Homo sapiens: one gene and its partners. The protein of the gene in region 6 purifies or fractionates together with the protein of the main gene of each other region. This does not show direct contact. Each region holds a gene or a part of one and is shown on either strand. Other genes may lie near its edges.

What was found.
Region 1: the proteins of CARNMT1 (region 6) and LUZP1 purify together in Homo sapiens (affinity purification with mass spectrometry; 3 studies listed by BioGRID and IntAct, with this or other methods). This does not show direct contact.
Region 2: the proteins of CARNMT1 (region 6) and TPP2 purify together in Homo sapiens (affinity purification with mass spectrometry; 3 studies listed by BioGRID and IntAct, with this or other methods). This does not show direct contact.
Region 3: the proteins of CARNMT1 (region 6) and ZC3H18 purify together in Homo sapiens (affinity purification with mass spectrometry; 3 studies listed by BioGRID and IntAct, with this or other methods). This does not show direct contact.
Region 4: the proteins of CARNMT1 (region 6) and MAP3K7 purify together in Homo sapiens (affinity purification with mass spectrometry; 3 studies listed by BioGRID and IntAct, with this or other methods). This does not show direct contact.
Region 5: the proteins of CARNMT1 (region 6) and CNTLN purify together in Homo sapiens (affinity purification with mass spectrometry; 2 studies listed by BioGRID and IntAct, with this or other methods). This does not show direct contact.
Region 7: the proteins of CARNMT1 (region 6) and CUL4A purify together in Homo sapiens (affinity purification with mass spectrometry, with the first as the bait; one large-scale study listed by BioGRID). This does not show direct contact.

The regions. Positions count from the first base shown.
Region 1 is NC_000001.11:23,092,357-23,095,856, reverse strand, and holds part of LUZP1 (leucine zipper protein 1), read left to right. Parts: intron 1-1,476; 5' UTR 1,477-1,595; coding exon 1,596-3,500.
Region 2 is NC_000013.11:102,645,486-102,648,985, forward strand, and holds part of TPP2 (tripeptidyl-peptidase 2), read left to right. Parts: intron 1-808; coding exon 809-905; intron 906-1,721; coding exon 1,722-1,859; intron 1,860-3,421; coding exon 3,422-3,500. UniProt on the Homo sapiens protein: Cytosolic tripeptidyl-peptidase that releases N-terminal tripeptides from polypeptides and is a component of the proteolytic cascade acting downstream of the 26S proteasome in the ubiquitin-proteasome pathway.
Region 3 is NC_000016.10:88,576,903-88,580,402, forward strand, and holds part of ZC3H18 (zinc finger CCCH domain-containing protein 18), read left to right. Parts: intron 1-207; 5' UTR 208-221; coding exon 222-824; intron 825-3,500.
Region 4 is NC_000006.12:90,549,073-90,552,572, forward strand, and holds part of MAP3K7 (mitogen-activated protein kinase kinase kinase 7), read right to left. Parts: intron 3,108-3,500; coding exon 2,977-3,107; intron 1,478-2,976; coding exon 1,396-1,477; intron 1-1,395. UniProt on the Homo sapiens protein: Serine/threonine kinase which acts as an essential component of the MAP kinase signal transduction pathway. Plays an important role in the cascades of cellular responses evoked by changes in the environment.
Region 5 is NC_000009.12:17,133,583-17,137,839, forward strand, and holds the start of CNTLN (centlein), read left to right. Parts: upstream 1-1,457; 5' UTR 1,458-1,483; coding exon 1,484-1,843; intron 1,844-4,257. UniProt on the Homo sapiens protein: Required for centrosome cohesion and recruitment of CEP68 to centrosomes.
Region 6 is NC_000009.12:75,014,794-75,018,293, reverse strand, and holds part of CARNMT1 (carnosine N-methyltransferase), read left to right. Parts: intron 1-845; coding exon 846-1,041; intron 1,042-1,862; coding exon 1,863-2,026; intron 2,027-3,500.
Region 7 is NC_000013.11:113,212,613-113,216,112, forward strand, and holds part of CUL4A (cullin-4A), read left to right. Parts: intron 1-3,500. UniProt on the Homo sapiens protein: Core component of multiple cullin-RING-based E3 ubiquitin-protein ligase complexes which mediate the ubiquitination of target proteins. As a scaffold protein may contribute to catalysis through positioning of the substrate and the ubiquitin-conjugating enzyme.

The DNA of each region.
Region 1 (3,500 bases), on a different chromosome or scaffold from region 6:
CCATTTTATGTTAGTTTCTCAGGACAGATAGGTTCTAGACCACTCAGATGGTATAAATTTGAACTCTGAATTCAAGTGAGAGCAGGTCTAAGATTATAAATTCTCTAGGGATAATCCTCCTTTAACCCCTAATAGAGCCCGGGTCCTCTTATCTCCCTATATCAGGGAGGTGACTTTTTTCACTAGTTATCCTGGAGCTGTAGTTCTTCAATAATCCTTGCTTTAGATTGGGGACTGGAGTCTCATTTTCAACTTACCACCTCTATTGAGCCCAAACTCTTGCCTCTTATACCTGCATGATTGTTAGAACCCAAACTCCTTGGTTCTGGAGATCGGCAAGACCCTAAGAAGGACAGCTCAGTGGTAGTTTAAACTTACTATTATTTTTCATTTAGTTTTCTTTTCCTCTGGTTTTAGCTGGAATGTCACTTACTTTCTATGTGATCAACTATACATTTTAAGTGATTGTTACATTTTATTCAGTATTTTTAGCTGTTTTATAGTATTAGAGGTTTTCCAGGTTATCTGGTTTGCTGTAGTGGTGGAAATGGAAGTCTGTTGTTTGCCTTTTAATTTCGTAGGACTTATTGTTCATGAAAGCTGTTTAAAATACATTTATCAATCCATTCTCCTGTTTTAAAAATGAGAAAATTACATAAAAAAACTAAACCTTCCCCTTTCTCTATTTCCTTGGGGTATTATTATATGTTTGGTATATATCCCCAGTGAAATGGCTTTCAAAGAAACAAACCAGTCTTCATACCAACCTTAACATCTGGGGCATTTCTTTTACAGTGCAAAAGGATATGTTTTGTAGAAGCTGCCTGTTGGCTGGGTCGGGCCAACTCACACCTGAATTCCACTTACAAATATACTTTTGGGAGAAGAGATGTTGAAAATGGGTGTAGAGAGATTGTTTTAGTATATTGTGAAGCTCACCATTTATAGCAAGGCAGAGGGTTAATTTGTATCACTTTTAAGTCACAATAGCTCATAAGAGATAATCTTTAAAAAAAAAAATCTTAGGATTGTTTATTGCTTTGTTACCAAGATCTTCCACATATTATCTCAGAACAACACTGGGGAGAAATACGGTAGACATCATTATGCCCATTTTACCACTAAGTAAAACTGAGACTTAGTTTCCATTGTTAATGACTCTCCTGAGATTATGCAGGTTGCAGATGGTAATGATGTTATTATACCCTGCCATGAAAATTGAGGCTTCTTATATGTCTTTTTGCCATGCTGCCACTGGTGACATTCTTTATTAGGGCGAAATGAGGTATCAACTCAATATCGGCCATAAAGAACCAGTGTTTTCTTGCAGGTTTATTCAAGTCATTCATTCAACAGGTTTGAGCCCCTGCTATGATCCAGGCACCAGGAACAGATAGGAGCACTTTTCTATAACTGGGAGCTAACGTGCAGGTTTTACATTTGCTGACTGACATGCTTTCTACTTTCCTTTTGTAGATTGATGATGGTCTCCAGCTGTCAAAGAAGATTGTGGTTGCCAAGAGAAAGGTAACCATTTCTCATCCCCTTGAGTGGAATTGGATGCCTCTAGGAGCCCACATTGGCTGGCAGTAGACATGGCCGAATTTACAAGCTACAAGGAGACGGCCTCCAGCCGCCACTTGCGGTTTAAGCTACAGAGTCTAAGCCGCCGCCTTGATGAGTTGGAGGAAGCCACAAAAAACCTCCAGAAAGCAGAGGATGAACTCCTGGATCTCCAGGACAAGGTGATTCAGGCAGAAGGTAGCAACTCCAGCATGTTGGCGGAGATTGAAGTGCTGCGCCAGCGGGTGCTGAGAATTGAAGGCAAAGACGAGGAAATTAAGAGAGCAGAGGATCTGTGTCGTCTGATGAAGGAGAAACTTGAAGAGGAAGAAAACCTCACCCGGGAGCTGAAATCTGAGATTGAGCGGCTTCAGAAACGAATGGCTGAATTAGAGAAGCTAGAAGAGGCCTTCAGCAGGAGTAAGAATGACTGTACCCAGCTGTGTCTGAGCCTGAATGAGGAGAGAAATCTGACCAAGAAAATCTCCTCTGAGCTGGAAATGCTCAGAGTCAAAGTGAAAGAACTAGAATCTTCTGAGGACCGCCTGGATAAAACTGAGCAGAGTTTAGCGTCAGAGTTAGAAAAGCTGAAATCATTAACTCTGAGCTTTGTAAGTGAGAGAAAATACTTGAATGAAAAGGAGAAAGAAAATGAGAAATTGATAAAAGAACTCACTCAAAAACTAGAGCAGAACAAAAAAATGAACCGAGATTATACAAGGAATGCTTCTAATCTGGAAAGAAATGACCTACGGATTGAGGATGGCATCTCTTCCACACTGCCGTCCAAAGAATCAAGAAGGAAGGGTGGTCTGGACTACCTAAAGCAGGTAGAGAATGAAACAAGAAACAAATCAGAAAATGAAAAGAACCGCAATCAGGAAGACAACAAAGTCAAAGACCTTAACCAAGAGATTGAGAAACTTAAGACACAAATCAAACACTTTGAATCGTTGGAAGAAGAGCTTAAGAAAATGAAGTCCAAAAATAACGACCTTCAGGATAATTACCTAAGTGAACAAAATAAAAACAAATTATTAGCCAGCCAACTGGAGGAGATAAAGCTACAAATCAAGAAACAGAAAGAGTTAGAAAATGGAGAGGTAGAAGGGGAAGATGCTTTCCTGTCCAGCAAAGGCAGACATGAGAGGACTAAGTTTAGAGGCCACGGAAGTGAAGCTTCTGTGTCCAAGCACACAGCGCGGGAACTGTCTCCTCAGCATAAGCGGGAACGACTCCGGAACAGGGAGTTTGCTCTCAACAATGAAAACTATTCTCTGAGCAACAGGCAGGTTTCTTCTCCCAGTTTCACCAACAGGAGGGCAGCAAAAGCTTCTCACATGGGGGTGAGTACAGACAGTGGGACTCAGGAGACAAAGAAAACTGAAGACCGGTTTGTACCCGGCTCCTCCCAGAGCGAAGGGAAGAAGTCTAGGGAGCAGCCCTCAGTGCTGAGTCGCTACCCCCCGGCTGCTCAGGAGCACAGTAAAGCGTGGAAGGGGACTTCCAAGCCAGGCACCGAGAGCGGACTGAAGGGAAAAGTGGAGAAGACAACACGAACGTTTAGTGACACCACCCATGGATCTGTTCCCAGTGACCCATTGGGTAGAGCTGACAAGGCTTCTGACACCTCCTCTGAGACTGTCTTTGGCAAGAGGGGACACGTGCTTGGCAACGGAAGTCAAGTAACTCAGGCTGCAAACTCTGGCTGTTCTAAGGCCATTGGAGCCCTGGCCTCATCTCGAAGATCCTCCTCAGAAGGGCTCTCTAAAGGCAAAAAGGCTGCCAATGGCCTTGAGGCTGATAACAGTTGCCCGAATTCCAAGGCTCCTGTTCTATCGAAGTATCCTTATAGCTGTAGAAGCCAAGAGAACATCCTTCAGGGATTTTCAACCTCACATAAAGAAGGGGTTAATCAACCTGCAGCAGTTGTGATG
Region 2 (3,500 bases), on a different chromosome or scaffold from region 6:
GTTTCTTTTGTTTAATCTGACCTTAACTCATCGGCATGAAGCCTAGTCTTAAGTGTATTAAAATAACCAATTAGGGACAATAGTCAGTGACACGGTGATGTCTAAAGATATACTGCTTCCTAGAATTATCAATAAAAATTAAAACATCCAGCTTTTGAAGATATATCCAACTTATATCATCCTGATGTTTTCTTCCTAAATCTAAAAAATTGGAGCTAAATTTAGAGTAGATTATGTTTCACTGACATTTTAAACTATATTTAAAACTTACTCTTCAGTGTCAGTTTTCTCCTTTATAAAATCTGTACATTAGCAACTTCCTTCAGAGGACTACTAAAAATATGAAATAACATTCCCTCGGCCAGGAGGAGGGCTGAGTGTGGCCCCTGCCATCTGGTGAGCAGCAGGGGTCTGGGGAGGTCTGTGCTGCACACAACACAGTACTGTCAACAGTTTGCACAAGGGGTACAAATCAGAACCTGTCTTGCAACACTTTTAGTTGTCACCCTAGTGTTAGGATTTGGTTGTATTGAGAGCTGTTTGTTCACATTTGAAAATGTTTTTGCCATGAAAAGATTGCCTTTGTCATATTTATTGCAAAATCTAAACTGTATGTATTGATATGATTCAATCAAATAATTATGTAAGTTAGTGATTAAAATATTGTAGAGTATACTGAAAAGGATAGCTCTCAGGAAGGTTCATCTGCACTTTTTGCAATATGTTACAGATTTTGTTGCATATGGTTTTATTTGTCTCATTCAATGAACTCTTGAATCAAACCAGTTATGTAGTTTCCTCATTACAGCCCAGTGAGTGCAAAAACAAAACCTTTAGGATCAAGAGATGTTTTGCCAAATAACCGTCAACTTTATGAGATGGTCCTGACATATAACTTTCATCAAGTAAGTGTTTGCCTAGTAAAGTGTACCCTTAGGATGAACTTTTGTGTTTTATTTATGATTCATAGAATCAAAAATGGAAGGACAGTGTATATGGTATATATAAAAAACAGAATCAAGTGATTAACAGTTAATTTGGAATTACTCTTTAGGAAATTATAATTTGTAATTAAATACCATTCAGTTGTAAAGTCACAAAATGTAATTGAGTGGTGACCTAGCCTTAAGCCTTAGTTTATAAAATCACTGATCACTGTCCATTGGTGCCATCTGACCCAGGGGTGATTAGATGGCTCAGAAATACCATCTGCCTTCTGGTGATGGTGCTGGGCCTGATTGCTTTCTGCGAAGAAGGCACTGGAACAGGGAAAGGTCAGAGTAGCTCCCAGGTGGGATGGGTGGCAAAAGTAATGGAGGCCAGTGTAAATGCTGGACCAAAGAATTGTTGTAAGATCAATGAGATTTCAATAAAACTGTTACTGAAACACACATCAGTTTGGTTATAATGTTAGGGAAATGGATTGGTTTCAGTGAATTTTCACATTTCAGTTTTATAAAGTAATTAGAGGTCCTGAAGTATGTATATGTTGCTTTATTAATGAATACACATAGCCAGGTGTGTATTTTTAAAAGTTTGTAAGAGAGCAGTGACTTTTATAAGTGCTAAAATACTGTGTGTTCTATATTTTCAAAATTTTTTACCACAAGTATTTTTAATGTTTTTTAAATGAAAAAGTCTCATGTCAATAACAATATTAAAAATTTGTATCAGAAATTATATGCAAATCATGCCAAGTAATCTTTTTTGTTTTTTAATAGCCCAAGAGTGGGGAAGTAACTCCAAGCTGCCCACTACTTTGTGAACTATTATATGAATCTGAATTTGACAGCCAACTGTGGATTATTTTTGACCAGAACAAAAGACAGATGGGTTCAGGCGATGCCTATCCACATCAGGTATAAAATTGATGGTGATTTTTAGAATTAACGGAAGCTGTTTCCTGAACTAACAAAATCCTGGTTTCTTGTTATGGTAATGTTCATACTTTAAAAAAAACAAAAATTATAGCTTTGTGTTTAGTACTTTTGCAAACTGTGAGAGCCTGTTTGTTGTAGTCGGTGAAGAACAGATGGTGTCAACTATTTCACCATGTAGTTGTGCTGAATTAGAGGAGGACAAGGGTGAACCTTGCCCACACTGGCCAGCATAACTTTTGGTGTGTGGTGTTTCTCCTTCCTATACACTGATTCTACCTATCTGAAGGTAGAATCATCAAAGCATGCATCAAAGAGATGCGAGCCTCTTGAAATGATCCTAAGTCTGAGGGGGCTAAAGAGAGCACTGCAGCAGTGGCCGCATGTCTTCAGTTCATTTGTACTTTTAAATTTACTACCTCGTTGGACAACTCTGTAATGAGCACTTACTACATACCAGGCACTATGCTTTGTGCTGTTTTATTGAAGGGAAAAATCACATAATTTATAGACATTTTATCCCTTAGATATTACTGCAAAGAAATGAGATATTTCCTGTAATATGTATAATTTTATGTTGACAAATGAAAATAATTTATGGAGATTTTTTTCAATTAGTTGTTAAAGGAATGGTATCGATTTTCCTCAAAGCAAGTAGCAGTCACATCTCATTACAGACTGGCCTACTGCAGTGCTATTATTTTGGTTACTTTTTAAATCTCAGAAAAAGTGGCTGACACAGGATACAGCATCTCTTCCTCTTGAACCTGTTAAGTGGATAATAGATTTGTATCCCTTGATCTCTATTGGTTTCCTGTTTTTTTCCTGTCTGTAATAAAGGAGTGACATTTTGGTTGTAATTTGAAGATCAGCTGGGCATGGTGGCACATGCCTGTGATCCCGTCTACTCAGGAAGCTGAGGTGGGAGGATCGCTTGAGCCCTGGAGCTCTAGGCTATGGTGCACTATGATTGCACCAGTTAACAGCCACTGCACTTCAGCCTGGGCAACATAGTGAGTCCCCCTCTCTAAAAGGAAATAAGGATTACCAGTAGTCATAAGTTACACGTGTGTGTGTGTGTGTGTGTGTGTGTGTGTGTGTGTGTATTTGTCCTAGATATTCTATGGTGCCTCAATTTTGCTCATTTTTTTGGTAGTGTTTCTTATATGTCTCTGAGGGACCCATGAACTAGAAAATCACTGCTTTTGTCATTCTCAAGCAGACACTGAGTTTTGCTAAAAGTGTGGGAGTATTCTGTCGTTCTGGAAAGAATGAGGGCTTTGAAGTCAGACCTGACTTCAGCTCTCTTATACTTTACTCTGTGTGATGTTAGGCAAGTCACTTGATGTCCCTGATCCTGTCTGCTCACCAGCGTACTAGGGACTTTATGTGTTATATGAACGTCTGGATAGTTAGTTCCTTGCACTGTACCTCACATATTATGAACAAGTCTGTGAATGGTAACTTTCACTTTATCCTCTTTCAGTGATTTCCGTTGACTTGGTTAAACTTAACTTTTCCCAAATGTTGTTTTTCTTTTTCAGTATTCTTTGAAACTGGAGAAAGGAGATTATACAATTCGACTACAGATTCGCCATGAGCAAATCAGTGATTTGGAACGCC
Region 3 (3,500 bases), on a different chromosome or scaffold from region 6:
ACTTAACACCCAGCTTAGCTGAGCAGTCTAGCCTTGTGGAGTGGAGTTATGGCCTGTCTTTCTCTGCAGAGTGGAGTGTGGGATTTGGGGCAGGGCCGTGTGGGACCAAGCAGGATGGAAGTCCTGCTGCTTCAGGCCAGGAAAGTAGGGACAAGGTTTGTTTTCCATTTTGCTAAAGGCTGTCAATCTGTATTCTCTCTTTTGCAGAACCGTGGGTACCGATGGATGTGGCCGAGAGCCCTGAACGGGATCCTCACTCTCCAGAGGATGAAGAGCAGCCACAGGGACTCTCGGACGATGACATTCTGAGGGACAGCGGGTCCGATCAGGATTTGGACGGGGCGGGGGTGAGGGCTTCTGATCTGGAGGATGAGGAAAGTGCAGCCAGGGGGCCGAGCCAGGAGGAGGAAGATAATCACTCCGACGAGGAGGACCGGGCAAGTGAGCCTAAATCCCAAGACCAGGACTCAGAGGTGAATGAGCTGAGCCGGGGCCCGACCAGCTCCCCCTGCGAGGAGGAGGGGGACGAAGGGGAGGAAGACCGGACAAGCGACCTTAGGGATGAGGCCTCCTCAGTCACCAGGGAGCTGGATGAGCATGAGCTAGACTACGATGAGGAGGTTCCTGAGGAGCCAGCTCCCGCCGTCCAGGAGGACGAGGCTGAGAAAGCGGGGGCTGAGGATGATGAGGAGAAAGGCGAAGGCACTCCCAGGGAGGAGGGGAAGGCTGGTGTTCAGAGTGTGGGAGAAAAGGAATCCCTGGAGGCTGCCAAGGAGAAAAAGAAAGAGGACGATGATGGAGAAATCGATGATGGGGAAATAGACGTGAGTATGATGGAGCAGAGCGTCGCGGGGCATCCTGCCCAGCAGCCTGACATAGACTGGTGCTGGAAAGGAGGGACTCTGTGTGGGACTGACTTAGTGATTTGTTACTAGGGATGGTGCAGGAGAATGAGAGGCTTGTTTTGGGTTCAGTCCCATAGTGATTGGAGAGAAAGAGCCAGAAATCGAGAATGAGCAGAGGCAGCTCCAGAAGCTGCCAGCAGGGTTTCCGTGGCCCTCGGCCGGCCAGCTGGTGGGATTGTTTGGGTTGTAGTGAAAGGTCCAGCGCCCAGTGTTTTTAGGTTCTAGGAATGAAGGGTTAATGTCTGTCCTTGTCTTTGCCGTCTTCAAGTGATACTCAAGTTAACACTCAACCAGAAACCACGTGGGTTTCCACTCTTGTCAGGTTTTTGGACTGAAAAGAATGAGGAAATTTTCCATCTGGTTTTGGATGTTTTAGGCATTTTTATGCTGGTCCTAGAGCCTGACCTCTGGAGAGGGCACCAGCTGGGCCAGGCCTCTTTGGACATATCCCTGAAAAGACTGTGGTGGGCACCTCAACTTCTGACAAAGCCAGCACACTTTTTTGTACATTAAATTAATGTGGCCTTCAGGTTGAGGGGAAGGTAGTACTATCTATGATCCTAGGTATGGGTAGGTGGGGTTTTCTTAGCAGTTGATGCCGTTGGAAAAACTATGAGTGTTTCGGGAGAAACACCCCAAAGTCCTCCTGAGTGATACTTGCCGGAGCTATTGAACTCAAAGGAGGTGAGCAAGGGACAGAGCAGTTGAACTGAACTGGGTTTTTGTTGTTTTTTTTTTGAAAGATCCTGGGGAAGGGGATTGTGCTTATGGGGAGTCATTGCGGTGAAGAGTGTCTGCCGAGAGTATCTCTCTGATGTCATGCTCTGGGTTGAGGCAGGTAAAGGCTGCCAGTTAGATGTGTAACCGCCGGTTTGCCTTGAATGCCATGCTCCTTTTTTTTGAGAGAGAGAGTCTACCCTGTAACCCAGGCTGGAGTGCAGTGGCGCCATCTCAGCTCACTACAGCCTCTACCCCCAGGTTCAGGCAATTATCCTGCCTCAGCCTCCTGAGTAGCTGGGATTACAGGCGCCCGCCACCACTGGCTAATTTTTGTATTTTTCGTAGAGATGAGGTGTCGCCCTGTTGGCCAGGCTTGTTTCAAACTCCTGACCTCAGGTGATCCGGCCGTCTCAGCCTCCCACAGTGCTGGGATCACAGGCGTGAGGCACCACGCCCGGCGGGTGCCATGCTTCTCCAGTAGCATGCTGGCGTGCGTGCTCTCAATGCACGTTTGGATATGACTTTCCGGCCATCGCTGCTCTCTGTGGCACTGCTCAGTAATTTATAGGGTTTGAAGTATTGCTCATGTGACTTTACGGGACGTGTGTGCACCTGCAAGCTGAGAATTTTAGATGTTTCATCTTTCCGCAGCGAAGTGTAGGAAGTGGTCTCCTCAGCTAGTGCTTTTTGCAAGAGGAGACCTACCCCAGGGCTGGCAGAGGGAAAGGAGAGACGGTGAGATTCAGGTTCATCAGCTGGGGGAGCTGGTTGGGTTGAGGATGCCCATGAGACTGAGTTTTTGTGTCCTGGGGGTAACAGCCCTGTCTGCACCACCACTGGGAGTGCAGCAGGTCCTGCACCCAGGGCTCTGGCGTGCTCTAGTTCCTCTTAAGAGGACTGGCTGCAGACCCTCAAGTCTTGGGGGAGATTCATCAGACGGATCAAGGGTCCCCATAGTGGTCCTGAAAGGCCATGTCTGTGGAGCATACTGTGAGTTCTCAGTGCCGCACCATGGGCGCGGGCGGTGCGGTAGATGGGTCCAGCTGCTCTGGAGAATGGCCCTGGCTGCCAAGGGCCTGGACATGCTGGTTTCCCCTAGACACAGCACATGGAAGAAAAACCCCATTTGCCATTTTTGCCTACCTAGACCTTGCCTGCCCTGCCTGGCACCGTCTTGTGAGGGGACCCACAGTTGAAAACGGAGTGCTGCTGTGGAAACCCCAGCACAGCTCCCTTGGCAAACGGGGAGGCAGGTTTCTTCCACCGCACAGACTGCCTCCAGCGCCCCACATCCCCCATAGGTCTGTGCTCCTGGACACCAGCACAGGTGGACCTTGCTGTGCCACATGCTGAGTGTGACTGGGCAGGGCGGAGCAGAGCCCGCTCCTGCTGTGGGGGCAGCAGGCCTTTAACCAAGGTGGGCAGTGCTGTGAATGGTGGGTTCAGCCTCTACAAGAGCACATTTGACTTCAGGCCCCTGGGTTGCTTGCCCCAGGAGCCCCCGTGGTCTCCTCTTGTTCCCACGCCCAGCAGCGTTTCAGGCTCCTCCATCCTTTATGTGTCAACCTCAGCATTTGCGTAGGCTGTTTCTCTGTTGCCTCTGCCTCTCTGTCGTGACACAGGTTCATCTGTGTGTGTGTGTGTGTGTGTGTGTGTGTGTGTGTGTGTGTGTGTGTGTGTGTATATGTATATGTCTCTGCCTGCTGCTTCCCCTATTCCCAAGAACATGTTTCCTAAGACTGGGGGCTACCTGGCTGGTTCCCCTATCTCCCTGGGGCCTGGCACATAGTGGGCAGCCAGTCAGTAGAGGAATCCTACTTGCCCGGGGCACATTGAAGGTGAGAACCTTTGTAATGTGAAGTGGCAGTGAGTGGA
Region 4 (3,500 bases), on a different chromosome or scaffold from region 6:
GATGATGCAAGAGACAGGGGAGAATTGCTCAGAGGAGCAGATGGGATATAATGCACAGGCAGAAAGGTACACCTTTGGCCAGAAGTATGGATAGTTTAGCCAGAGTAACAGAAGAAAGCAGAGTAGATGGGCACAGATGTTGTGGAAGCTGTCTTCCGATTACTCCAATTTTCTCAGAGAAAGAGCAAACAAGATCAGCTGAGAGTGAGGAGTGGCGAGGAGGTGTTTGAAGTCTGAGGAGAGGCTACAGTATAAAATTAAGACATATAGGAGGAAAGAGATGAACTACAATACAGTACAACTGTCCAATAGCACTAAACATGCACGTGAGGATAGTAAACCTGTGCTATCTCCAGCCACACTCAGCTGCATTGGTACAGGCAAGGAGTAAGCCGAGTGTCAGCTTTCATTAGGCTTGTGGTTTAGCCAAGCAAGCTTGAGAGAGAGGCTAGAAAGATGAAAATTATTCCCAAAAGAATTATAATAGTTGATTGGAATTAAGTGGAGGGAGAAAGAAAAAAGGACCTAAGAGGACTGAGGACCAGTGAAAAGGTGGGAGGCTCAAAAAATTCAAGGTCACAGTAAGGAAATGAAGAGAGAGTTTAGAGGACGTGGGAGACACAAATGATAGAATTTTAGAGAAGTACATTTTAGAATTCAGAGCAACTCAAAATATTTTCAGTAAAACTGGAATTTGAGAATAACTAGCCAAGCAGTAACCATCTTAAAATAAATAAAACTATTCTTGAGGTGGGAGAAATAGATCAGTAAAAGTATTTTTCAATAAATGCAGGGTAAATACATGTGCATATAGACACACACATATCTTTAAGTTTCAATTAATAATGAAATGCTTATAATGCCACTATATTTTGAGAAGTACAATATTTCTAAGTTACAGTATTATTTCTACTATCTTTTTGATGACCACAAATTACATGTCCCACTACTACTTCACATTTCGGAAAACTAAGGAACTTTTAACATAGCTTCTTAAATCAGAGCCTCTGTAGAAGAGAACAAAAACTAGGGTGTTCGTGATGAAGAAATGTTTAAATACATTTACAATAATTTCTAATACTACTTGATCTAGTAGTATGCATGTAAAAGTGATTTTTCAAGTTAAGAATGACATTCACTGTAATACAATATGCCATCTTTTTATTCATAATTATGTAGGAATTCTAAGACTTGGAAGCAGGTCTTCAATAACTCTTTAATCAGGGTACCTACATGAAGAATGACGCACCTGTAAACTCAAATTGCAGTCAATCATATGAAATGAAGGAATTAAAATGCAAATGGGGACATTATTCATTACTTCTTGATTATAATTTCATGGGAATAGAGATGAAAGAAAAATCAAGTCAATACTCTTCCAATCTATCCATTTACCTGTACTGGTGGCAGAGTTGCTCTGTCCTTCATCTGAATACTGACAAGGATACTGTAATGGCTCATCTGCTCCTGGAAAGTACTATATATAAAAAAGTAAACCACAGCTTAAAATTTCCTTAATACAAATTAAATCCTGATTAATGTTTTATTTTCCCTAAGTTATATACTAAATTTGTAGGTGCCTAAGTTTTTTATTTTACAAAGATTACAATAATGTACTCTTGGATTTCAACTTTGATCAATGCCATGCACCTACCTAAGAATCTAGCTTACATTGGAGTCTAGATAGTCTTGAAGAAAACAGCAAATATTTCTCTAGAGAAACATATGAAATAAAATAGTATCATTTCTCATAATTATGTAAAACATACTCATGTTCTTACAGTAGTGATGTAAACTTCCAGTGACTGTTAGTCTGAAGACTGAGACTAGTATACCATAGAATAATTGTTAGAACATTTTAAATATTAAGAGGATAGATTATGAATGTCTTTCTACAAACTGGAGGCATAATACTCAAAGTATCTGCTGGACAAAAATGTTAGAATTTAGAGAAAAAAAGGAAACGTATTCTCCTCAAATTAGACAAGGAACAGAGAAGCAAAATTACAACTGCAATAACTTATATATCCTAAAGTTTTAAGTAATCTGACTACAGAGACTAAGTTGTTTTCTTATGCACACACCTTTAAGGCCTAGGCTTCTATATATGACTGGTATCCAAATACGATGGTAAACTTTTAGTAGATTAGTTCAAGCTGCTTTGCGTAAGAAATTTTCAATAGATTGAATAAACAACGTTTTACCATTTAGGAAATTACTTAGTCTATATTTAAGGAGATTGTAAGATTCTTCTACTGAACAAACTGTTTCAAAATTCAGGCACTTTCATAGATATTTGAACTTTTTAAAGCCAAGATACCACTTCACAGTTTTTGTTAATGTACCAAAAACCAGAGGCGTAAAATATTCCAAATAATTCTAAAGGCGCTTGATTCACAGACTAGGAAAATTTGATAATCATTTAAAAGGGTTCTTCTAAATAGAAGAAAGTTTAACTTTTTACTGGGATATAAAAACCTGAAAATAGGCCAAATAGTAAAAGTCACTCAAATAAATGTGTCTGAGAATGCAACCTATTGCCTTGCATAAATGACTAAATGCTTGATGAAAATTGGTATCAGAAAAATGTAAAATTTAGTTTATCATGTATTGAAGTCATAATATTAATATATCCAAGTCCTGTGATGGCTTTAGAGACTATCTATTTCAGTTTCTCCCACATTACAAATGAGGCAACAGGCCCAGAGACAAACATACTTGTCCACTAATGTAAGCAAAAAGAAAAAAGCAAGTCTAGAAACCTAGTCTAGCCATCTTTCCAGTGATAAAGAACTAGATTTTCCCTCTCGAAATGTTTCCTCTTCTGACTATGAGTAATAAATGCCCATTCTCACTTAGAAAACATAGCAATATATAAAGCAGAATATAGTAATAACATCCCTTTTAAAATTCCATTAAAACTCAGCACATATTAAATTCCCCTAAATCCAAAGCCCCTCAAAAGAAGGATTATACCCGCATCAAGTGAGTCATTATTTTCACAATTTCCTCCATTGAAGGGCGCTGGGAAGGATCTTTAGACCAACAACGAGTCATCAGGCTCTCAATGGGCTTAGGTAAATTTTTTATCAGTGGTGGTCGAGTACCTACAATTGAAAATGAGAGGAAGGGGGGAAGAATGTATTTACCCAAAGAATGATGCAAACTCTTTGTACGTATTTCCAAAGTGGTATTTATTTTATAGATCTTGTAGTTTAAGATCTGTAATTTGGAGTAATAAAAGTGCTTTGTAATTTTATCAATTAACAAGTTAGTTCTTTTACTCTTTACTTCACGGACGTTCAATTATTTACTGACAACTGATAGAAAGCAAGCAAGCAAGCTGTCCTGGTCAATGCTGAACAGTCTCCACAATGATACTAATGGTAGTAATATTAAAGGCAGTATAGGAAACTGGTAAAAACAGCTAAGATTACTCAGATGATGGTACTGTTTGATAAATCTATGAATGACCTAAATAATTAGGCAGACATTTGTTT
Region 5 (4,257 bases), about 58 Mb from region 6:
GTTAAGTGGAATTCAGTGAATTCAAAGCCTAGCTTTTCTGATACCAGACATGGCACTTCAGAGAAGTTACAGTAACCTTGCAAGTCTGTTTCCTCACTAGTAAAAATGGAGATATATAATAATCTAATTGAAGGTGACATATGTATTAAGTGAGTTCATATATGAAAAGTGCTTAGCACTGGACTCAGCATATGGTAAATGTTCAGTAGGTTAGCTAGTTCTAAGACAGGCTTATAAACATACTTTTTCTAATGTACTCTTTAATAAGTTTTTGTGAGGAATTCACCTTCAGTTTGAAAGAAGTCCACTTATCTTGGTTGCCTTGGCAGGATTCTAATTGGGAGGGTGTCTTTTGGCATCCTGACTAGATTCTCATGCAGAGATGGTGATATTTTGGTTAAATGAAGTTAACAGTAAAGTGGTCATCTCTCTACTTCTGCTCTCAACCCCCATCTCAGCTTTCCCCAAGTATTCTGGAACCCTTTCTGAAGAAGAGGGCAGTTCTAACTTTCAGGGATGTTCTGGTGCCAGCTCAATATGCATCTCATTAATCTTATCAATAGTAACAAAGTATTTGAAGGGCAAAGAAAGATACGATTACTACCTATTTGAAGTTTATAAAGAAAGCCAGAAGAAAAAGAAAAAAAAGAGAACAAAAGATAAAGTAGGTCTTGTTTCTTCATCCACGCTCCAAATTACTGATTTCAAACTGCTCCAAGGACCCAAACTGTTCAGCAATGTGGGCTACACTTCCTCTGATATCCAGCCAACGCATAAAGAAGCTGACATAAAAACTCAAAGGAAATCATGACTCCTGCAAAACAAAAGACAAAGGGTGTACAAAGGATCATCATTCAAGTTGGAAACCTGCTTGATAGTCCCAGATCAGCACAAGGCTTTCCACATCTCCTTGACATTAGTCAGCTGGATGTCAGCTGTACTAAAGCAGTTTTGCCAAGGGGTGTGAAGAAAACACTTAAGTGTAAAACGTATTCCTTGATCCTCAAGGAGCTTACAACAGGGCTGGGGAGATTAGCCGTGTAACTGACACTCCAGGGCGGTCAATGAAACGTGTCACACGAGTTGGCAGGGGCCTTGAAGGAGAGGGATTTCACAGTTAAGGATCATTTGGGGCTGGGGGCTTGTCAAGGAAGGCTTTAAGAGGTGGGATGTAAGTGGCAGGCAGGGCTTTAGGTGGGCGGGAAATCCAGGCGATCCTGGCCAAGGACTCAGGCACAGGACGCTGGGATGGCCTGCCCGGCGGACCGGCCTTACCCTTTCGGGCCACGGCGCGTGCGTACCCCAAGGCTCGCGCTGGGCGCATTGCCCGCGGGAAGCCGGCCAGGACCAGAGAACACGGGACACCGCGGGCCAAGGCGGGAAAAGCCTCGCGCATGCGCGGTTCGGCGTTCCGGGCTCGCCGGGTTGGGGAAAGGGAGGTGGAGTTTCCAACAGGGAACTTGACCCGTTAGCAGCCGCAGCCATGGCGGCGCGTTCGCCTCCCTCACCGCACCCTTCGCCCCCAGCGCGACAGCTGGGCCCCAGGTCCCCACGTGTTGGGCGGGGAGCTGAAGTACACGCAATGCGCAGCGAGGCCTCGGGTTTTGCCGGCGCAGCGCGGGAGGTGGTCGCGGACGAAAGTGATAAAATCTGGGTGGGTGAAGAAGGGTCAGGGGGCCGGCGAGGGCCTGGGGGGGCAGCTCCGGCTCATGCTCCCCTCCTCAGCGCGCCCATGGGGTCCAGACGGCTAGAGGGCATCTCGGTAGAGGAGGCGATGGTGACCCGGACGCAGCTGCTGGAGGAAGAGCTGAGCAGCCTAAAGGAGGAGTTGGCCCTGTGTCAGGTATCGAGGAGTCTCGCAGTCCCCCTTTCCCCACCACAGCGGGGCCGGGACCCGTGGGGAGGCGCGCCTTTCTCCCTCTGCCTTGGGACCTACCCCGCCCAGCGACGCTCCCTGGCAGATGCACACCCTGCTTCGCTCGCGGCCGGGGGCTGGAGGGACGCGGCTGCGCCCGGCTCCCCAAACCCGGGCCCCTGCCCCTTTCCGAACTGCGGCCAGACAGGCTTCGCCTCCGCGCCCGGGTTTGGTTTTGGTCACTTGGATACTCGCAGTCGCATCCTCTCCGCTTCCCCCCCAAGCCCAAGTTCTTGGTGGTGACGGTAGCTGATACCTGCCGGGGGCCCAGGAGTGACATGCAGTCCACTAGTTGAAATGAACAGGAAAGTGTAAACACTTCGGTTAGAGTAAAATCCATCGATGAAGGAGCCTGTTTTTAAAATTTCAAACCCACACTTGGCTTTGTTTTTACCCAGTCAAACTTAAGTTGTAAACACAGACGAGTAACGTTTAGAAAGTCTCAGAGCCGGGAACTTAACAATAGATGATGCTTGGTACTTGTTTATTAACCAGCTATGGTAATTCCGCGGTCCTTGAGTGAGAAATCACATTTTCATGTGATCTTGCCAGTGAAAAACATTTGCTAAATCAATTGCATTAAAATTACTTTCCTGTTTGTAGAGTTTTTGTAAGGATGGACTTGACTATACTCATGTTCAAAGAGATTGAATTTTCCTTTAGTTTTGCATCCTTACCATCATCTCTTTTGATTTTACCAGAACCTTTAGATAGGGTTGGGAGATTGGATGTGGGAAACTCACTGAACAGTAGATCTTTAAGTCACTCTGTCTTCAACTTAGAAACCAATTAGGAGCTGCTGAACATCAAAGTAACTTTGTGAACAGTATCATCAGTTTAATAAAACAGTTCATGAAATTCATTCTCTGTCGCCCAGGCTGGAGTGCAGTGGTGCAGTCTCAGCTCACTGCAAGCTCCGCCTCCCGGGTTCACGCCATTCTCCAGCCTCAGCCTCCCGAATAGCTGGGACTACAGGTGTCCGCCACCACGCCTGGCTAATTTTTTGTATTTTTAGTAGAGATGGGGTTTCACCGTGTTAGCCAGGACAGTCTCGATCTCCTGACCTCGTGGTCCGCCAGCCTTGGCCTTCCAAAGTGCTGGGATTACAGAAATTCATTCTCTCATAGTTTGTTCTGTTGGATTCTTTTGCCCATTTTATAGGTCCTTGCTGACTGAGTGAAGGGTGTAAAAATGGGACCATCTTCAAATTGAATGTGCCTTTGGTTAAACAAGGTTGGGACATTTAATATGGTGCCCTCTTTTCGTTTTACCATTTTTCTGTTCTTCGTTGGATAAGGAGCAAAGGGATAAATAAATGACAACAATGAATTGAAGCATTTGTCATCTGCAGACCTCACCCTTTGGGGAGTTTTAAGATGTGAACCCATGATAAAGGCCTTTGATACTCTGAGTCCTAATCTAAGACACTCTTTGGCATATTTTCCGCACTCTTTCCTCCCACTTCTGCCTCCCCACATAGTTAGGCCTTTAGCTGGCTAAAGAGCTAAGATACTTTTTTATGACCGACTTGGTTAAGGAAGTCAGTCTATTGGAAACAGCCTGATGAACCTCTTCCCACAAATACTTACATTCTTTAAAAATGTGGCTCCAAACATGGTGTTGGCTTTTGTGACCTCGGACATATATAGACTAGGAAAATGATTGACATACTCTTGGCAAATGTAAGAATACAGAGATGGTCATAATAGTCTAGAATGATGATCTCTTAGATTTTGTAATATTAATACTCTTATATAATTGTAGGCAGTATCCCGCACCATAAAAATCTTAGTCAAATCAGACTCCTGCTCTTCGGGAATCTTGGGGAAAAATAGTAATTGAACTCCCAATTGTTTTGTAAAAAGCATTTAGGTGATTAAATATTCACTTTTATATCTTTTAAAGTATACTCTCCCGCTTATTTATTCAGCTAGAGATCACAGTACCCAAGAATACATAGCATTAAAACTGCTGAAAATTACAACTCGAAGTAAAATTTTGTATCTCAATCTAGTAAGTACACACATATACAAACATATATTTTCAGAAAGAATACATGCCCTAATACTGTGTGGGCTGATATTTTTTCAGTTCTATTCCTTTAAAAAATGCTGTCCAGATCTAAATTAATTTCAGAACCCAACAAGGCTTGAAACATACAGTTTAGGAAAAAGAACACTGCTAATTAGTCCATGGTCATAAGTAGTAGCTTCATTTAATTTGTTTTGCTTTCACATTCAACTTATGGGAATTCAGTGATGTGTGCTTGGTGAAGTTTGAGTAATTCCCCATACCATTCTACATCATTGGAATGCCTCAGAATAAGCATGTAATAGAAAGCA
Region 6 (3,500 bases):
CCCGGAGTTTGAGACCAGCCTGGGCAACATGATGAAACCCATCTCTACAAAAAAATACAAAAATATTAGCCAAGTGTGGTGGCACATGACTGTAGTCCCAGTTACTTGGGAGGCTGAGGTGGGAGGATGGCTTGAACCTGGGAGACAGAGGTTGCAGTGAGCCGAGACTGTGCCACTGCATTCCAGCCTGGGCGACAAGAGCGAAAATCCCTCTCAAAAATAATAATAATAAGTAAATATAAGTAAAAATTATGTTCTATTTTCTGGTTTTATGAATAAGTAGTCCCCAAAGTGACCTTTGGGTTCGTTTTTGGAATGCAAATTGTGGGTATTGTTAAGTAAAACACTATAGAATTTTAATTTTTTATTTGCTTAGTAATTTGTAGTATATAAGATCTTCTATGATATTTAAAAAAAATCAACCTGGTTAGCTTTTAGTTAATTTCAGGACATATTTTGTGTGTATTATAATTTCATAGCAGTATTTATTTTGCTACTTAAAGATGGAAAAATCTAAAGCTGGTTTTGCTGAAAATTTTAAGTTTAAAACACAAAAATAAATTAATTGTACATTAATCTTCTTTTTCCTCTTCTAATTGGTGCATATGTTTACTTTTACTAGTGATAAACCATTTGTATTTTGGTTGCTTAGAGAAGGACTTGTAATAAAGTAAAAACATTTACAACTTTATAAGTTAATGCCTTTTTAAAGCCAAGAGATTGTAAATGATAGGACAGTATCCAGCATAATAAGGAAATAATTGTACAGAAAGACAACCTTAAAGTAAGATTGGCCTCTGGTGAGAATTCTTTTGTGAATTTAAAAAACACCTTTTATGTTTTAGCACCAGTATGCATGAGCGGGTGAACCGAACAGAAAGACAGTTTCGATCACTTCCAGCTAACCAACAGAAACTACTTCCTCAGTTTCTTCTTCACTTGGACAAGATCCGGAAATGCATTGATCATAATCAAGAAATACTACTGACCATTGTGAATGATTGCATACATATGTTTGAAAATAAAGAATATGGAGAAGATGTATGTGAAAGTTTGTTCTATTTCTGTTTATTTTAGGGTCAACCTCTGTATTTTGAGGTCTTTTATTTTCTGGATTTCATTTTTATAATCTGGCACAGGCTATTTGCTCTACTCAGAAAGTTTTAACTTAAATGTTCAGTCATTTGATTAGGCTTAATAGCCAGAGACTGGATCTGTTCACTTGTTTTCCTTTTTTAAGTACTAATATAACTGTTGAGATTTTGATGCATTTTGACATAATGTTCTGTTTTGGAATACAGGGTTAGTGACTTAAATTTTTAAAAGCAACTTTACTAGCTAGAAATTAATTTCCCTTGCTTAACTCATATTTTTTCAGTGTCTTGTATCTATTGCTGTTCATCTTTTATTGTAAGAAATTGTTTTCACTTATAAATCTCAAGGGACTGGCAGTACATAGAAACTGAAGTCCTCTTTTTGTATCCACAGGATGGATACAGTTGGGCCACTCCAGTGTGAGCCTCTCCATGCTGCCCCATCAATGACCTGGAGGGACTTTCTTCCCTCTCTTAGAGAGGATGTTCGGTCTCCATAGCAGCTCAGTTTGGTCCTCTCCTGAGTAAAGACTGCTTAATTATATGGTGGTTTTATGATTAATGGACCTTAATCTTTTGAGGGTAGCAGTGAGACCACCAAACTCTTTTCATTTAGGATCTCAAGCTGCACTTGAACCCCAGTTGAGGTGAGAGGCTAGTGATTTATCCACTAAACCACCTATATAGCCCCTTAGTAGCATGTCTATTTAACCATAATATAAGTGGATTACTCTCTCAGAAGCTAATTGATGTCTGTTTTTTAAACAGGGGAATGGAAAGATTATGCCAGCATCTACATTTGACATGGATAAGTTAAAATCCACGCTGAAACAGTTTGTGAGAGACTGGAGTGAAACTGGGAAAGCAGAAAGGGATGCCTGTTACCAGCCAATCATTAAAGAAATTTTAAAAAATTTTCCAAAAGAGAGATGGTAAATAGTACCTCATTTTTAACCAAGTTTTTAAAGTGTATGAACACTTGAGTTTCTTGATAAAATGTTTCACAGTCTCGCTTCATTGTTATAGTTGCTGTGTGCCTGTATGTTTTACATGTGTAAGTGTTAACATTTGTTATTGGATGCTCTGTGTGAGATTACAGTTGTTATTTTGAATAATTTTTATGCTGGTGCTTAGGGGAAATTACTTAGAAATTAAATAATAAGGTTAGGTCGAAAATTATCAATGATGTGTATCTTTTTATAATTTGCTTTATGGCAAAGCAAAAAAACTAAACTTTTAATTCCCCTCATTATGACATAGTTGTAAACAAGTGAGGGATCTGTACCTCTGAGCAAGCAGAGATTCTTAACTTTTTTATGCCTTGGAACCATTGTTCAGTCTGAAGCCCATGGTCTGCTTTTCAGAATAATTTTTTTTTTATTTTATTTATTTATTTATTTATTTATTTATTTTTTTGAGACAGTCTCACTCTCTTGACCAGGCTGGAGTGCAGTGGTGTGGTCTTGGTTCACTGCGACCTCTGCCTCCTGGGTTCAAGTGATTCTCATGCCTCAGACTCCGAAGTAGCTGGGACTGCAGGCTTACACCACCACGCCTGGCTAATTTTTGTGTTTTTGGTAGAGACATGGGCTCACCATGTTGGCCAGGCTGGTCTCGAACTCCTGACCTCAAGTGATCCGCCTGTGTCTTCCTCCCAAAGTGCTGGGATTACAGGTGTGAGCTACCTCACCTGGCCCAGAATAACAATTTTAAGTGAATAAATTTAAGTGCATATGATTACAAAGAAAACTGATTTTGAAATACAGTTATCAAAATATTTAAAAAGTAAATTTGTGATGCATGTTTTTTTAAATCATATATCACTTTAAATACAATTTAGCTGCAAGTATAATTATGAAATGTATTATGAAAATGCTGAATGGGATATACACTGTTTTGAGAACTTCAGCTAATGTGAAGTGAAAATATGTGTGATTTCTCTTCGTGATAAAGTCATAGGTATTGCTAAAACTATTGTTTGTTGCCTGCATCCGTAATTGAGGGGAAAAAATCAGTTTCTGAAATTAAAATGTAATTTTTTCCCATTCCCTTCAGAGACTCAGTGAATTCTATCCACAGACCTCTTGATGGATAGAATTTAATCCACCTAACCTCTGTCCCAGGTTAGGAACCCCTGATTTAGGGGTATATATTTAACGAAAGCTATTGGATGGAATTCAGTCTTATTTAAAGATCTTTTAGAGAGGCTCCTTTTCCTCCTCTCCTTTGCCTCCGTATTGATTGACAACTTTACGTTTGAGTATTTGCTTTCAGAAATTTCAATACATATGTGTCTCTTCTCTCTCTTTATTTTTTGTTAGGACATTTTATTTTATTGATTATTATTTATTTATTTATTATTTTTATTTTTCACTCTGTTGCCCAGGCTGGGGTGCAGTGGCGCTG
Region 7 (3,500 bases), on a different chromosome or scaffold from region 6:
ATCTCTACTAAAAGTACAAAAAATTAGCCGGGCGTGGTGGCAGGCACCTGTAATCCCAGCTACTTGGGAGGCTGAGGCCGGAGAATCGCTTGAACCCGGGAGGCGGAGGTTGCAGTGAGCCGAGGTTGTGCCACTGTACTCCAGCCTGAGCAACAGAGTGAGACTCCATTTCAAAAAAATACAAAGAAAAGTCTAGAGTCAGTGTTTTCCCTGCAAATGTCCAGTTTTTCAGTCTCTTTTCCCCTACTGAATTGCCTTTGCTCCTTTGTCAAAAACCACGTAGGAGTAGGAGGAGTGAGTTGTGAAATCAGGGTGTGTTGGCCCCCCAGCTTCATACATTTGCACAGGTTTCTGGCTATTCTTGGTCCCTTGTGTTTCCATGTGAATTTTAGAATCGGCCAATTTGTATAAGAAAGTGTGCTAAGATTTTGATTGACGGTATATAGAATCTACAGATCAATGTAGGAGAATTAAATTCTTAACAGTATTGAGAGTCTGGGCTCAGTGGCTCACACCTGTAATCCCAGCACTTTGGGGGGCTGAGGTGGCCTGATCGCTTGAGCCCAGGAGTTCGAGACCAGCCTAGGCAACATGGTGAAACCCCATCTCTACAAAAAATTTAAAAATTAGCCTAGTGGGGTGTTGCATGCCTGTAGTCCCAGCTACTCAGGGCCCCCACACCACAACCTGGAAGCTCTTCACACAGGAAGCTGAGCAGTTGGGGCCTGTTTGTCTCCCATCTTTCTGAGATTCACTGTCTTTCATAGCCCAGTACTCAGTGCTTCGAAAACTGTTGCTTCGTATATTTTGCCTGATTTTGTGGTTATTTCAGGCAGAAAGTTAATACAGTTCTTGTACTGTGTCTTGACTAGAAACGAGTCCCACCTGAACTCTCAGAGGTCTTTGGTTTAATAAAATATGATACCTTACAGCTAAAGCTTCTTACTACTCTTTTCCTGGAGATTTGGCTGTCTGATATCTGCTGCCTCATTATTTTTACTTAAAAAGGCGGAATTACTTTGCAACACCTTGTACACAGTGATATGTCTTATAAAACAATCACTAGATATTATGAACAATGTTTGTAGGTGCCTTAGGTGTCTGTCTTGAAACCCTGAGAACTAGGAGTGCTTACCCCAAAATGACAGTCACTGGTTCCTCCTTGGAATGAGACATCGCAAATTCCAGGGGCATCTCTGGAGGTGCTGCCCCACCAGGGGATATGTGGAATCAGTTGATTCACTTACTTGTGATCATCTCTCCACGCACAGGTGGGCTTCTGGCCTCTCACAGAGTCTGAAGCATGAGCTGCCTCAGATCTATTGGAAGCAAATGGGATAGAAATCTAAGAAAAGCAAATGTGAAATTACTGATGTCTGATCAAGCAGGCAATACATTTGACTTGGTGTTTCAAAATAAAGTCTCAGTTTTTGTATAGGTGGGGTGGTGTATACTTTGCCAAAGAATCTTATGTGAAAGGACCAATTCTCACCCAAGTTTGAAAGGTTTGGTTTCGTGTTTGGTTTTTGGTTTTGCTCACTCTCCCTCTACGTCTAAACACCTTAGGAGTCCTGTCACTTACACTTTTTGGGCCTCAGCTGGCCTGTTGTTTCTGTTTGTTACTTTGTTTTTATCATTTTCCTCCTGTAGTGTGTAGAGGAGAATGTTGTGAAGGCATGGATCTTTTCCATTGAACGACCTGAATTTCGGTCTGTAATAACTAACTCCTGAAGAAAGTGCATCTTCTGTGTCTTGTGTCTCTATGTTTTAGTCCTGCTTGTTGCTAAATGAGACAACAGAAAACTGAAGACTGCATTTCTAGAAAGGTTTCAGAGAAAGGCTGTGTTTTGATTTAGAACTGGTTTTTTTGTTTTTTGTTGCACAAAAACAAACCTCTCAGGCCCTTTAAAAAAAAAGAGAGAGAGAGGTGTGGCCTCCCTATGTTGTCCAGGCTCCTTGGGAACTCCTGGACTCAAACAGTCCTCCTGCCTTGGCCTCCCGAAGTGCTGGGATTCCAGGCGTGAGCCATTGCACCCGGCTGACATGCAAGTTCTGAGGAAAGCCAGGCTGTCTTTCTTGAGTCACGGAGTAGTTGTCTTCATGACATGTTGATACCAGGTGATAATGGTCAGTGAAAGAGAGAGGTTAGTCCTTTGTATTAGGTGGCATCCTTCCCTCACACCCAAGCTGCAGGCCCAGCGTAGGAATGGGACCTCCACAGCCACACAGGTCTCATCCTGTGTGGCTGTGAAGGTCGCTATATGACTCTGGAGGTAGCTATGTGACTATGGAGGTCTCGTCCCGTGTGGCTGTGGAGGTCGCTGTGTGACTGTGGAGGTCACGTCCCATGTGGCTGTGGACATCTTGTCTGTGTGGCTGTGGAGGTTGCTGTGTGACTATGGAGGTCTCGTCCTTTGTGGCTGTGGACGTCTTGTCTATGTGACTGTGGAGGTTGCTGTGTGACTGTGGAGGTCGCGTCCCGTGTGGCTGTGGAGGTCACTGTGTGACCATGGAAGTCGCGTTCCGTGTGGCTGTGGAGGTCGCTGTGTGACTATGGAGGTCTCTCTCGTCCGTGTGGCTATGGAGGTCTGTGTGGGAGTATGGAGGTCACATCCCGTGTGGCTGTGGAGGTCGCTGTGTGACTGTGGAGGTTGCTGTGTGACTATGGAGGTCGCTATGTGACTATGGAGGTCGCTGTGTGACTATGGAGGTCTCATCCATGTGGCTGTGGAGGTCTCTGTGACCATGGAGGTCACGTCGCATGTGGCCGTGGAGGTCGCTGTGTGACTATGGAGGTCACGTCCCATGTGGCTGTGGAGGTCGCTGTGTGACCATGGAGGTTACTGTGTGCCTATGGAGGTCGCTATGTGACTATGGAGGTTGTTGTGTGACTATGGAGGTCTCGTCCATGTGGCTGTGGAGGTCTCTTTGTGACTATGGAGGTCACGTCCCATGTGGCCGTGGAGGTCTCTGCGTGACTGTGGAGGTCACGTCCCGTGTGGCTGTGGAGATCTCTGTGTGACTATGGAGGTTTCATCCATGTGGCTCTGAAGGTCTCTGTGTGACTATGGAGGTCGCGTCCCATGTGGCTGTGGAGGTCGCTGTGTGGCTATGGAGGTCGCGTCCCGTGTGGCTGTAGAGGTCGCTGTGTGACTATGGAGGTCTCGTCTGTGTGGCTGTGGAGGTCGCTGTGTGACTATGGAGGTCGCGTCCCATGTGGCTGTGGAGGTCGCTGTGTGACTATGGAGGTCTCGTCCGTGTGGCTGTGGAGGTCGCGTGTGTGACTATGGAGGTCTCGTCCATGTGGCTGTGGCGGTCTCTGTGTGACTATGGAGGTCTCGTCTGTGTGGCTGTGGAGGTCTTTGGGTGACTATGGTGGTCACGTCCCATGGTCCCATGTGGCTGTGGAGGTCGTGTGTGACTATGGAGGTCTCGTCCACGTGGCTGTGGAGGTCTTTGTGTGACTATGGAGGTCACGTCCCATGTGGCTGTGGAGGTCG